Regions from separate parts of the Homo sapiens genome. Here region 2 is linked to region 1. Evidence: fine-mapped expression QTL. A gene starts in region 1. The other region holds a variant in brackets. All regions are shown on one strand. Distances are between the middles of the regions. Region 1 holds the start of TPSG1 (tryptase gamma 1). Region 2 holds the start of LOC124903623 (a long non-coding RNA gene).

Region 1 (5,358 bases):
GCCCGCCTCGGCCTCCCAAAGTGCTGGGATGACAGGCGTGAGCCACCGCACCCGGCCTGAGTTTGACATTTTCAAATTCATTTTGAGGTCTTTCTCTACATCAATAGGTGAGCCCTCTGCGTCTGGCGAGTGTTGCATTTTATCCCGGGCTCTTGTTTGCATTTTATATTTGAACATGATTACACTCAGGAATGAAATGCGGGGCTGTTCTGGTTGAAAACAACTCTCTAAAGAAACATTCACTCTTTCCTTCCAACTGTTAGATGCAGAGATGTGCATTTAGTCTCCCGAATCTCTGCAAATGACCTCTGTCCTCACAAGGGGTGGACTCAACTCCCAGTGCCCTCTCCAGCCCCACGTGACCTCTGCCTCTGCAGCCCCTGAAGGCCCATCCCTCGGCTCCTGTTCTGCAGGCCCAGCGTCTTGTTAATGAAGATGGACCTGGAACTCGGGCCCTTCTTCCTCCCTCTGGCCCATCCCACCTTCTAGGGATCACAGAGACAGCACGGGGTGACCCCCAGGGAACACTGAGCCCCTAGAAGCACTTCCACACGCCCACTGGAGGTTTTGCGGGGTGGGAGTCGGAGGGATGAGACCCCGAAGGGAAGCAAGACGGCCCCTCAGGACAGGGCTGCCGGTGTAAGGAAAGGTGGACAGCAGGGGCCGGTCACTGGGTGGAGGGGGAGGGCGGGCTCCAGCCCCAGAGCTTCCCAAATTAGATCTAAGATCCCTGGGAAGCTCAGTGAAGCTCAGCCCAGTGACACTGGCAGATGTGAGCGTCAGCTTCAGCAGGAAGGGTCTCTCAGGACGTGGCAGGCAGGCTGCTGGCCAGGGCTGCAGCCACCTGCGTTTTGACTGGGACGGGGGCACCTGCTCCAAGGTCACCCACGTGGCTGCCGGCAGGAGGCCCTGGTTCCCCGTCACAGGGGGGTGTGAGGCGGAGGGCGAGTGGGGGGGACAGGGTTCCCACCGAGGGGACGGCACCCAGGTGGCCAGGCCACCGCAGACAGAAGCAATCCCAGGTCTCCCAGGGTCCTGGACAACAGGAGACCCCACCAAGCTGGGGGCAATCACCAGGGCCAGGCCCCCCTCCCGGTTCCTCAGTTGGCTCTCCTGTCCAATGGTGGGGGTGAACGGCACCATGTCACAGGACTGCTGGGGCTCAGGGGATGGTGCCTGAAGCTTCTTCCTCCCCAGCAGGCCTGCAATCTGGGTCGTGTGGAGCACTCTGCGGGGAGTGGCGTGCTGGGGCACAGGCAGAAAGACGGGGTCCCCAGTGCTGCAGGTGAATTGAGTTGGGACAGGTGAGGGCCCTGAAGTCCCCACCTGTGGGGACCTGGGGACAGCCCTAGAGGTCAGGACTAGAGGACCTGGTTCCATGAAGACCCTGCCCCTCAGGCTCCCTCCCCACTGGGTGACATCGCCCTGTTAGGGGCACCCTGGGCCGGGGACTCGTGGCTCAGACCCCGCTCCCTTGTGTGGGGTGGGACTGTCCTGCCTCCCCTGAGGCGCCCCCTCCAGGTGTGCGGCTGCCGTGAGGGAGGAGGGTGCCCGGCCGTGGGTGCACTGCTGGCCCCGCATGCTGGTGTTGTCCTTATTGGTCACCAGGAAAAACACTGAACCTCCAGTTCTGAGCCTTGGCTACCCCACGTGCTGGCGTGCAGGCGGCCACGTCTGTGCCTGGGAGGCCACATCCTGGTGGGTGGTCAGGCAACTCCCCCCAACCCGTGGCTGAGTTTCCCCACATCAAAGAGGGGATCCCTGACCTAGAAGGTCTCAGCTGGACCCTCCAGCCTGGCCTGTGATTTGGATCTGGGGAGGGCGGCAGGAAAGTCCCGGGCGCTGCCCAGGGCCCCTAATCAGCTGAGTCATCAGGCTGGGGCAGCCAGGACGGTTAGGAAGGGCCAACCCAGGCTGGGCCGTGAAGTGGTGCCCATCTGATCTGCCGCACGAGCACAGGACCTGCTGCCGGACGTGGGGACAGGGACTTCTCAAAGAGTGGTTGTCACGAGGGCCTGAGCTGTCTCCAAAGGGCTGCTGGGCCTTGAGTTGGGACCCTCCTGAAGAACCCCCAGGACTGGGCTCCCAGAGGATGAAGGAGAGGGGGTGGCGTGCCCCGAGGGAACCAGGGAGTAATTTTTGGAGGGGGCGGCACTCAGAGGAACACTCACCCCTCCCTCAGCCCTGGCCCCGGAGCAGAGACAAGGTGAGAAGTACTTTTGCCTTCTGTCCTTCCCCGCTTTCCCTTGACGGAGCCGGCCACTTGGTGCCAGGGCTGTGGCGTCCACACAGGGATAAATGGAGGTGACGACCCTTCTCTGAGGTGCAGAAGGAACAGGTGGGGCCGTCTGTGGAGCTCCGGCCTCCTCCTCCGTCCTCCCGCCCTGCCTGACAGCAGGTGTGTGGCCACCCCTATCCCCCACGCCCAGCAGGTCCAAGGGTCAGGCTGGCCCTCCTTCTCCCTACAGTGGGCAGACACCATGGCCCTTGGGGCCTGTGGCCTCCTGCTGCTCCTGGCTGTGCCCGGTGGGTGACCTGGCCTGGGTGTGGGGATGGGGGGGCATCTGCTTCCTGCCTGGACCCCTGATGGGGGTGAAACTGGGGGCTGGTCTGAGACGGAGAAACATGCTGAGTCCCCACCCTGTGGGGCCCCGTGTCTCCTCTGAAGAGACTGCACCCCTGGCTGGAGGCCCAGCTGTCCGTGCTGGGGAGAGGCAGGAGGGATGTGCGGGTGGGAGTTGGGGGTGCAGGAGTTGGCAGGGCGGGTGGTAGTTGGGGGTGCGGGTGGGAGTTGGGGGTGCCAGGAGTCCCAGGCCCTAGAACACTGGTGATTTCTTTCCTGAGCAGGACCTGGAGGGCGGGGAGGAGGCCCAGGCCTGAGGCCAAGCTCCCGGCCTCCAGCTGCCGTTTATGGCCTGTGGCTTGTCCCACCCAGCCCTGGGCCAGTGAGACAGCAGTTGACCCAGCCTCACCAGGCCGGGCCCCTCTGCTCAGGACCAGGCCCCACCCCAGTGCCGCCCTGAGGCCTGGCAGGGGCCTCTGGAGCCCGCACACCCCTCTCCTTGGCAGCCCCCTCCATCCTGGGCCCTTCGTCTTTCCCACAGGTGTGTCCCTCAGGACTTTGCAGCCAGGTACGTCTCTGACAGGTGTGGGGTGTGGGGGAGGGTGCAGGCAAGGCCTGGCAGGAGGGCCTCGGTGACCCTCTCCTTCCCTGGGGTCCCAATGGGGGCCCGGGGAGGTCATAGTTTGTCGCCGTGGTTTCTGCTCGCATCTCTCGGTTGAGTGGGGCTGGTCGGGGTGTGCTGCAGGGCTGTCTCCCCCACCACCACTGTAGTCAGTCTGTACCTTGGGAGATGCTCTGAGGCCATGAAACAACCTGGCCCTCCTCGAACTTTCTCCCCACAGCGTCCCCACCGTGGCCCTGGAACCAGCTGGGGGCTTTGCCGTGTGGGAGAGCCGGTGCCCCACCCCACACCCGCTGCCTATCTATAAACATCTCTGTCTGTCTACATCCCAGCTTCCCTTCCATTCAGCCCAGTGGCCACACTCCATCACCAGCACAATTATCCAGCTCAGGCAGACCCAGGTGTGGCCAGTGGGTCTCCAGCTGACTTCCTCTTAATTTCTTCTTAACTTACTGAGGTGAAGTTTACAGAAGATAAAGTTACATTATCAAGCGTCCAATTCAGAGGCCCCGAGCACCTTGGACAGTGCTGTCTGCCCCCCGCCCCCCGAATTTTATCCAGCTTCGAATATCTCCACCACCCCTGAAGGAAAACCGGGGCCCACTAGGCAGCCACCCCCAGCACCCCGGGCCTTCTCGGGGGCTCCACCGTTCTGAGCCCCTTTCTAGCCGCCTAGGGGCCCTCTGCAGCCTTTCCACCGCCTCCGGGAGCCCTGGTTAGTTTGTGGAGCATGGTGCTTAGAAAGGACGACCTGAGCCCCAGGCGCGCTCACTGCTCCTGAGACGTCATTTCTGCTGCACCCACGATGCTTCTGGGGAGAGTCTGGCAGACGAGAGAGCTGAAGAGCAAAGTCCCCAAGAAGGCAGGGAGGTGTGGTCAGGGAAGGCTTCATGGAGGAAGTGCAGTGGGTTTCTTGGGATCCCCACCAGGCACCCCTTCCTCCTTCGACTTAGGGTGTGGCCGGCCGCAGGTTTCGGATGCAGGCGGCCGGATCGTGGGGGGTCACGCTGCCCCGGCCGGCGCATGGCCATGGCAGGCCAGCCTCCGCCTGCGGAGGGTGCACGTGTGCGGCGGGTCACTGCTCAGCCCCCAGTGGGTGCTCACAGCTGCCCACTGCTTCTCCGGGTGAGTGTCCGGGTGGGCAGGGGCAGTCTCAATGTCCAGGCCCCAGTGGGGCATGCGCCAGCGCAGAGGCCTCCACTTGGTCTTGACTCACTCCGAGGCTTGGGAACTCTGAGCCTACTTCCTTCCAATGGAAAGGGAGGAGCTGGTTGCCCACCTTCTGTGAGGTTCTGCAGCTCTTTGCTCACCTCTAGGGATGGACAGCTCCCTCCCTCCTTCCCTCCCCTCGGTCTCTTCACGTGGAGCTGAGCTTGCAATCTGCCTCCTGACCAGCCCCTGCTGGTGTCGGGCATGCTGCTGGCTTTTCCAGGGGCTGGCAGGAACCCCAAGGTGCTGCCGTGGTCCTTGGGCCCTGCAGGGTGAGGCCACTGCCCAGGCTTTCTGCGTCCCAAGCCTAGGAGGGAAGAGCTGGGCTTCGGATGCCTGCAAGGGTAGGGTCTGGGCGGGGCCGACACTGACCTCCAGCCTCCGCAGCTGGCCCCTCTCACCCAGCCACCTTCCCTCCCAGGTCCCTGAACTCATCCGACTACCAGGTGCACCTGGGGGAACTGGAGATCACTCTGTCTCCCCACTTCTCCACCGTGAGGCAGATCATCCTGCACTCCAGCCCCTCAGGACAGCCGGGGACCAGCGGGGACATCGCCCTGGTGGAGCTCAGTGTCCCCGTGACCCTCTCCAGCCGGATCCTGCCCGTCTGCCTCCCGGAGGCCTCAGATGACTTCTGCCCTGGGATCCGGTGCTGGGTGACCGGCTGGGGCTATACGCGGGAGGGAGGTGAGGAGCCCCCGTGGGGATGCTGGGATGGAGGAAGGCAAGGGCGGCAGGAAGAGAGCTGGCTTGAGGGATGCTGATGCTACCACCTGCTCCTGGTGGCTTCCACACCCAGCCAAGGCCGCCCCTATCGGCTGTCCCTTTTCAAAGCCTGTCGTGTGGATCCAAAGCAGCAGCCAAACGTCAGATCACAACCCACGTGCCGTGACGAGGGTCGTGGTGGCATGGGACTTGTGTCTGGCAAGGTCTCCCATCCCCCCAGTGCAGGGCCTGGTGCCCC
Region 2 (5,353 bases), 21 kb after region 1:
GACACTGGGCGGGCCGGGAGGGGGGTTGCGCCCACCTGAAGATGAAAATGAAGAGCATGAGCAGCGTGCAGAAGGTAGCCACGTTGTCCATGGTCTTCACCAGCACCACGAGCTGGCGCCGCAGGGCTGGCAGAAAGCGCACCAGCTTCAGCACACGCAGCAGCCGGAAGGTGCGCAGCACAGACAAGCCACCGTCCGCCTGCCCCACGATCTCCCAGACGCTGCGGACAGGTGGGGGCGAGGGTCAGCGGGGCCACGATCCCTGACCCCAGGCCCTCGTCCCACTGGAAGCAGGGTCACCAGCCAGGGAGCCACAGCGGCCTGTGCTGCATCCCACAGATGGGAGAGGGTATGGCTGCATCAAGGTGCATGAACAGCTGCGGAAGCACCTCAAAAGCCGCTTATCCGCTGATGGCCCCGGGGGCTACCCGGCCCCCAGTGCCCCCTGGGAAAGAAGCCTGGCTCTGGCCAGGGCAGGGAAGCTCCTTCGCCGAGGGCGCTCTCCTATCCTGGGCCTTCCACAGCCAGACCTGGCTTGTCCGTTCTGCTCACTCCCTCCCCGCCCCAGGATGGGAGACCCTGCACCCCTCTCTACTCTTGAGGGATGAGCGTCCTCCTAGGGGAAGACCGGGGGCGTTTCCCCTCAAATTTTCCCAATCCTTTCTGGTTTAATTTTCTTGTAGCAAATGCTCCTCCAGCAGCAAGCAGGATTCAGCCTTTTAAGCTGGTCTTTCTCGCTCGGCCCTGAGGCCACCCCACACCTGCTTTGTTCCTGCAGGAAACAGCTCCGCTAGTTTCTAGAAACATCTGAGACGCAGCTGACCTAACAGGTGCGCACCCCGTAGTGCCTGCAGGGAAGCATAGCGTCTGGGGAGGGGACTCTGCCCAGGACGGTCCCTTGGGCCACTGGGGTCACCAAGCACCTGCTTCCCACGGCCTGTCATAAAGAGCTATCGTCGTACTTCCTCCTGTGCTCTGGGTTTTGCTCTGCAGGTGGGATTTCTGCCAGAGAGTGGAGCTTCCCGGGCCCCTCTTCCTGGGGAGAGGGTGGGGACCCACCTGATGACCACGATGATGCCGTCGAAGATGTTGTACGGGTTCCGGATGTAGCCCAGAGGGCCGCAGGCCAGCAGCTTCAGCAGCATCTCCAGGGCAAACATGCTGGTGAACACGATGTTGCTGATCTCCAGAGCATTAGTCAGCTCCTCGGGCTGCAGGCAGAGGTGGGGACAGTTCAGGAGGCCGCACCCGCGGCTCCCACCCCTCACCGGCACTGATCTGGGGCCCCCACCCGTGGCTCCCACCCCTCCCCGGCACTGATCTGGGGCCCCACCCGCGGCTCCCACCCCTCCCCGGCACTGATCGGGGCCCCCACCCGCGGCTCCCACCCCTCCCCGGCACTGATCTGGGGCCCCACCCGCGGCTCCCACCCCTCCCCGGCACTGATCTGGGCCCCCACCCGCGGCTCCCACCCCTCCCCGGCACTGATCTGGGGCCCCACCCGCGGCTCCCACCCCTCCCCGGCACTGATCTGGGGCCCCACCCACGGCTCCCACCCCTCCCCGGCACTGATCTGGGAGCAGGTTTGGCTGCATCAAGACCCAAAGGGTCAAGAGGGCTGCAGCAGCATCTCAAAAGGAGCCTAATCAGCTGCCGTCTAGAGAGGAGGCCAGGAATCCAAGGAGATCCCCTCCAGTGGAGGCTCGGCACACCTGGTCTCCTATCCTCACCATCCCCGGCTTTCTAGAGCCCTGCCTGACCGTCCTACCATCAGGTCAGGCATCGGGGCTGCTGGAAGCCTCCTGAGACTCCCCAGGCCCTGCAAGCCTGACAGGGAGCCCACCCCGTGGCCAGGCCAGCCCGCACCTGCTCATGGTACTCCACGCCCATGCTCAGCGTGTTGACAAGGATGGCCATCATGATGCCACGGCTGAAGTACTTGCTGTCCACGATGC[G/A]GCGCAGCTTGCCGCTGAAGGTAACCCAGAGGCGGCCCATCCAGCCTGGCTCGCCCGGGGCTGCCCTCTGCTGTGCCCGCCGCTGGGGGCTGCCTGGGCCTGGGCCTGGTGTGTCCGTCGCACGGGGTGGTCGCGTGGGGTCCCAGCGGTCACCGTGCCGGACGTCCTGCGTGAATTCATAGACGCCACGGCCATCTGAGTCTCCACTTTCCGAGCCGCTGAGCTCACCCTCCGGGTCCTCCAGGGCACGGGTGCAGTACGGGCAGCTCTTCAGCTCACAGGTCAGTGTGCCCGCTGGGGGGCTGGGCAGGGGGCAGGGCACACTGAGGCCCGACAGATGGCCAGGGGCCTGGCCCAGTCCTGCGGGAGAGGGCACAGACAGGGGCAGGCCCACTCAGTGGTGCTGCCACAAGGGCCCGGGAACCCTCACACACAGGAGCGGTGGGGTGAATGTGTCCCCCCCAGAAAGATCCATCCAGAGTCCAACCTCCAGAACCTGTGACTGGACTTCACAGAAAGCAGGATCTTTGCAGGTGTCATGGGTTACAATGAGGAATGAAGCTATCCCGGAGTAGGGAGGGCCCTGAGCCACGACTGTTCCAATAAGAAGAAACCAAAGAGCCATGTGAAGACAGAGAGACCGCAGGGACGTGTCGACAAGCCGGGGACTTGCAAAACCGCCAGAACTTAGGAGAGGCGAGGAGAGTTCTCCCCTAGAGCCTCCAGAGGAAGCAACCCTGCAAGGCCTGGATTTTGGAGCACTGGCCTCCAGAGCTGAGTGATTTTCCGCTGTTCTAAACCCACTAGTTCGTGGGTACAGCAGCCACAAACATCAGAAAAACCATACATTTGGGCACACACCTGGGCACACACACCCAACCCCCACAGCCGCATTCCTGCTCACGTACTGGGGCAGGGACACACTTAGGTGCAGAGACGTTTGCCTGCCTTGGGCTGTGCCATCCACAGAAATATAACAGCAGCCACTTCCCAGCAGCCACAGCACACAGGCGAAGTTAGCTACGGGATTCTGTTTGACTCGATGCGAGCAAACCATGGTTACTCCAACACGAAACTGACATGAAAATGACCATCGAGCCGTCCTGTGATGTTTTCGTGCTGTCTTTGGAGCCCGTGTGCCTCTTATAACACACAGCGGCTGGACTCCCACAATTCAAGGGCTAGGAGCATGCGCCCGACACTCGTCTGCACGCCCTGGGTACCAGCGCATGAGGGCACACAGCATCCCGGCACCCTCGGCACCCTCGCTCGCACCTCTCCCCACCACGGGGGACACACCCCCGCCTGCGTCTCTACATCTGTGTACAGAACCAGGAAGGGCCCCCAGGCCCGTGTGGAACCCTACCATCTGGGGGCCCTGGAGTCTCCCATTCACCTGGTGGACAGAGGCCCAGGCCCCGCATAGGAGAACCCCACGCCAGCCTCTCTTCCTGACTCTCGGTGACTCTGCGACGGTGCCTCCCCCACACTCCCCCACTCAGCGTCCCCACCTAGAAGGGGGGCCAGCCTCAATGGCCACGAAGGACGCTGCACGTCCTCCAGGGAAGCGTCCAGGCTGTGGACACAAGCATACGGTCCCTCTCGGGGCCAGGCAGGGGCAATGGGATGCTGCCCCAGGAGGGTCTGACAAGCCTTGTCAGATTCAAAATCCCACCTCCGCGGCTACCACTCCTGCCATGAGCTGTGGGCCACCGGGAGCTTGCTTTGGCGCTGTCAGGGGCGGGACCTGCCTCTTTCCCCTTCTTATGGGCTCCAGAGGCATAGCTGGTCTGTTTCACAAGTCAAAGCTGGGCTCATCAGAGTGCCCACAATGGGTGTGGGAATGACACACCGGAGACCCTGCCCGCCCTGCCTAGGTCCCACCGCCTCCTCCGTGGGGTGGGGCTGGGTCCTCACCATGCTCCCCGACCACATGCGGGATCTTCTCGTAGGGATCAGGGCTGTTCAAGCTCAACGGGCCGTGCCCCCCGGTGCCTGGCGGTCCACCGGCCCACTTCCCCTTGGGTCCGGGGCTGGTGCTGCCTTTGCCGCTGCCCACCCCTGAGGGCAGGATCGTGGGGTAGTTCATGGTGCCCAGCCCTGTGGCCAGTCTGAGGCTGGCAGCGGCAGTGGCTGCGGCATGTGCCACCCGGGCCCTCTCCTGCGGCCCCTCTATGTGGCAGTCGGCATGGTAGATGCTGTGCACAGACTCTGCGTCGGGGGGTCCGCGGCCTGGGGAAGGTGGCGAGGGGGGCGCGCCAGCTCGGACCAGCCTGGTGTCGCAGGCGCCTGGCTCGGGGCCGGGCCTGCGGGGGCTGCCATGGCTGAAATGGTAGTGGTGGTGGTGGTGGTGATGGTGGTGGTAGACCAGGTGGTGCACCGAGGCTGTGTGCCTGCCTGCCCGGCGCTGGCGGTGCCCGGGACCCTGGCCTTGCACAGCACTGGGGTCCACCTTCTTGCGCCAGCGGCTCTGCCAGCGGGCGTAGAGGCGCAAGCTGCGCCGCTTGACCTTGCGGAATATGTGGCCCACGTACTTCAGCAGCTCTTCGTAGCAGCTGCCAGGCTCGGAGAAGCTGGCCAGCGTGCTGTCGTTGGACAGGTGGCGTGCCCGCTGCTCCCGCATCAGCTGACTCTCCCGCTGCTTCGTCTCCGAGAACTGCGTGGCAATCACCACCAGGCACAGGTTGATCATGAAGAAGGAGCCCACCTGTGACGGGGGCGGGCGGGTAAGTGGCAGTGAGTGAGCGAGTCTCTGATTCGCCACTGAGCCCTACTGTGCGCTGCCTGTTCGAGTGGGGGCCGCGTCACAGGCACAGTGGGCGAGGTGCCCTGCTATGGGCAGGCTGCTGCGGTGTTCAGTGCTGAGCCCCCACGTCTGGAGCAGACGGCATACAGTAGCTGCTTTGTGCCTATCTGGACAAAAGACCTGGAACCCTCTTTCCTGCTTCTCCATGTGGCTCGGCCCCTCCTTTACCTGCAGATCTGGCCTTGAGATGACCCTCTCAACGGTGGCCACTCTCCCCTCCCCAGCACCCCAGGTGCGTTTCCTCCTTAGCATGGACCAGCGTGCAGCAAGTCTCTAATCGTTCGCTTCGCTTGCTCTCTCAGAACAAGCTGGGGACGTCTGTCTGCTTCTGTTACCTACTAGGTCCCCGCAGGGTGGCTCTAGGTATACCTAGGACCCCACAGACGTCTGCGGCCTGATTAACCCAACTCTGCCAGGACCCACTGGGGCCTATGAGAGGACCAGCTAAGGAGCACACCTGGGGCCACACACGCCCGTGGAAAGCGGTGCTGGGAGGCTATGCACTCCCCAGGGTGTTCCTGGCTCTTCAGCCCTGAGCCAGCACCCACAGGCCTGGACCCTGTCTAGGTGATGCCATGGCCTCTTGGGGTCC

Evidence for each region.
Region 2: its variant is fine-mapped to the expression of TPSG1 in unexposed skin (GTEx, PIP 0.97).

What each region holds. Positions count from the first base shown.
Region 1 is chr16:1,222,375-1,227,732 of GRCh38, reverse strand. TPSG1 (tryptase gamma 1) reads left to right here and starts at 2,465. Exons shown (of 6, transcript NM_012467.4): 1 at 2,465-2,526; 2 at 3,105-3,131; 3 at 4,139-4,310; 4 at 4,816-5,081. The coding sequence starts at 2,481. It overlaps LOC124903621, which reads right to left and starts at 2,482. Exons shown (of 2, transcript XM_047434997.1): 1 at 2,172-2,482; 2 at 493-1,279. The coding sequence starts at 2,482. The coding sequence ends at 493. RefSeq lists a silencer at 3,427-3,613.
Region 2 is chr16:1,200,972-1,206,324 of GRCh38, reverse strand. It overlaps CACNA1H (calcium voltage-gated channel subunit alpha1 H), which reads right to left. Exons shown (of 35, transcript NM_021098.3): 9 at 3,873-4,662; 10 at 1,867-2,315; 11 at 1,060-1,211; 12 at 36-221. It overlaps LOC124903623 (a long non-coding RNA gene), which reads left to right and starts at 4,614. Exons shown (of 3, transcript XR_007064938.1): 1 at 4,614-4,681; 2 at 4,936-4,993; 3 at 5,104-5,353. The variant G/A (reference allele first, on the strand shown) is at 1,956.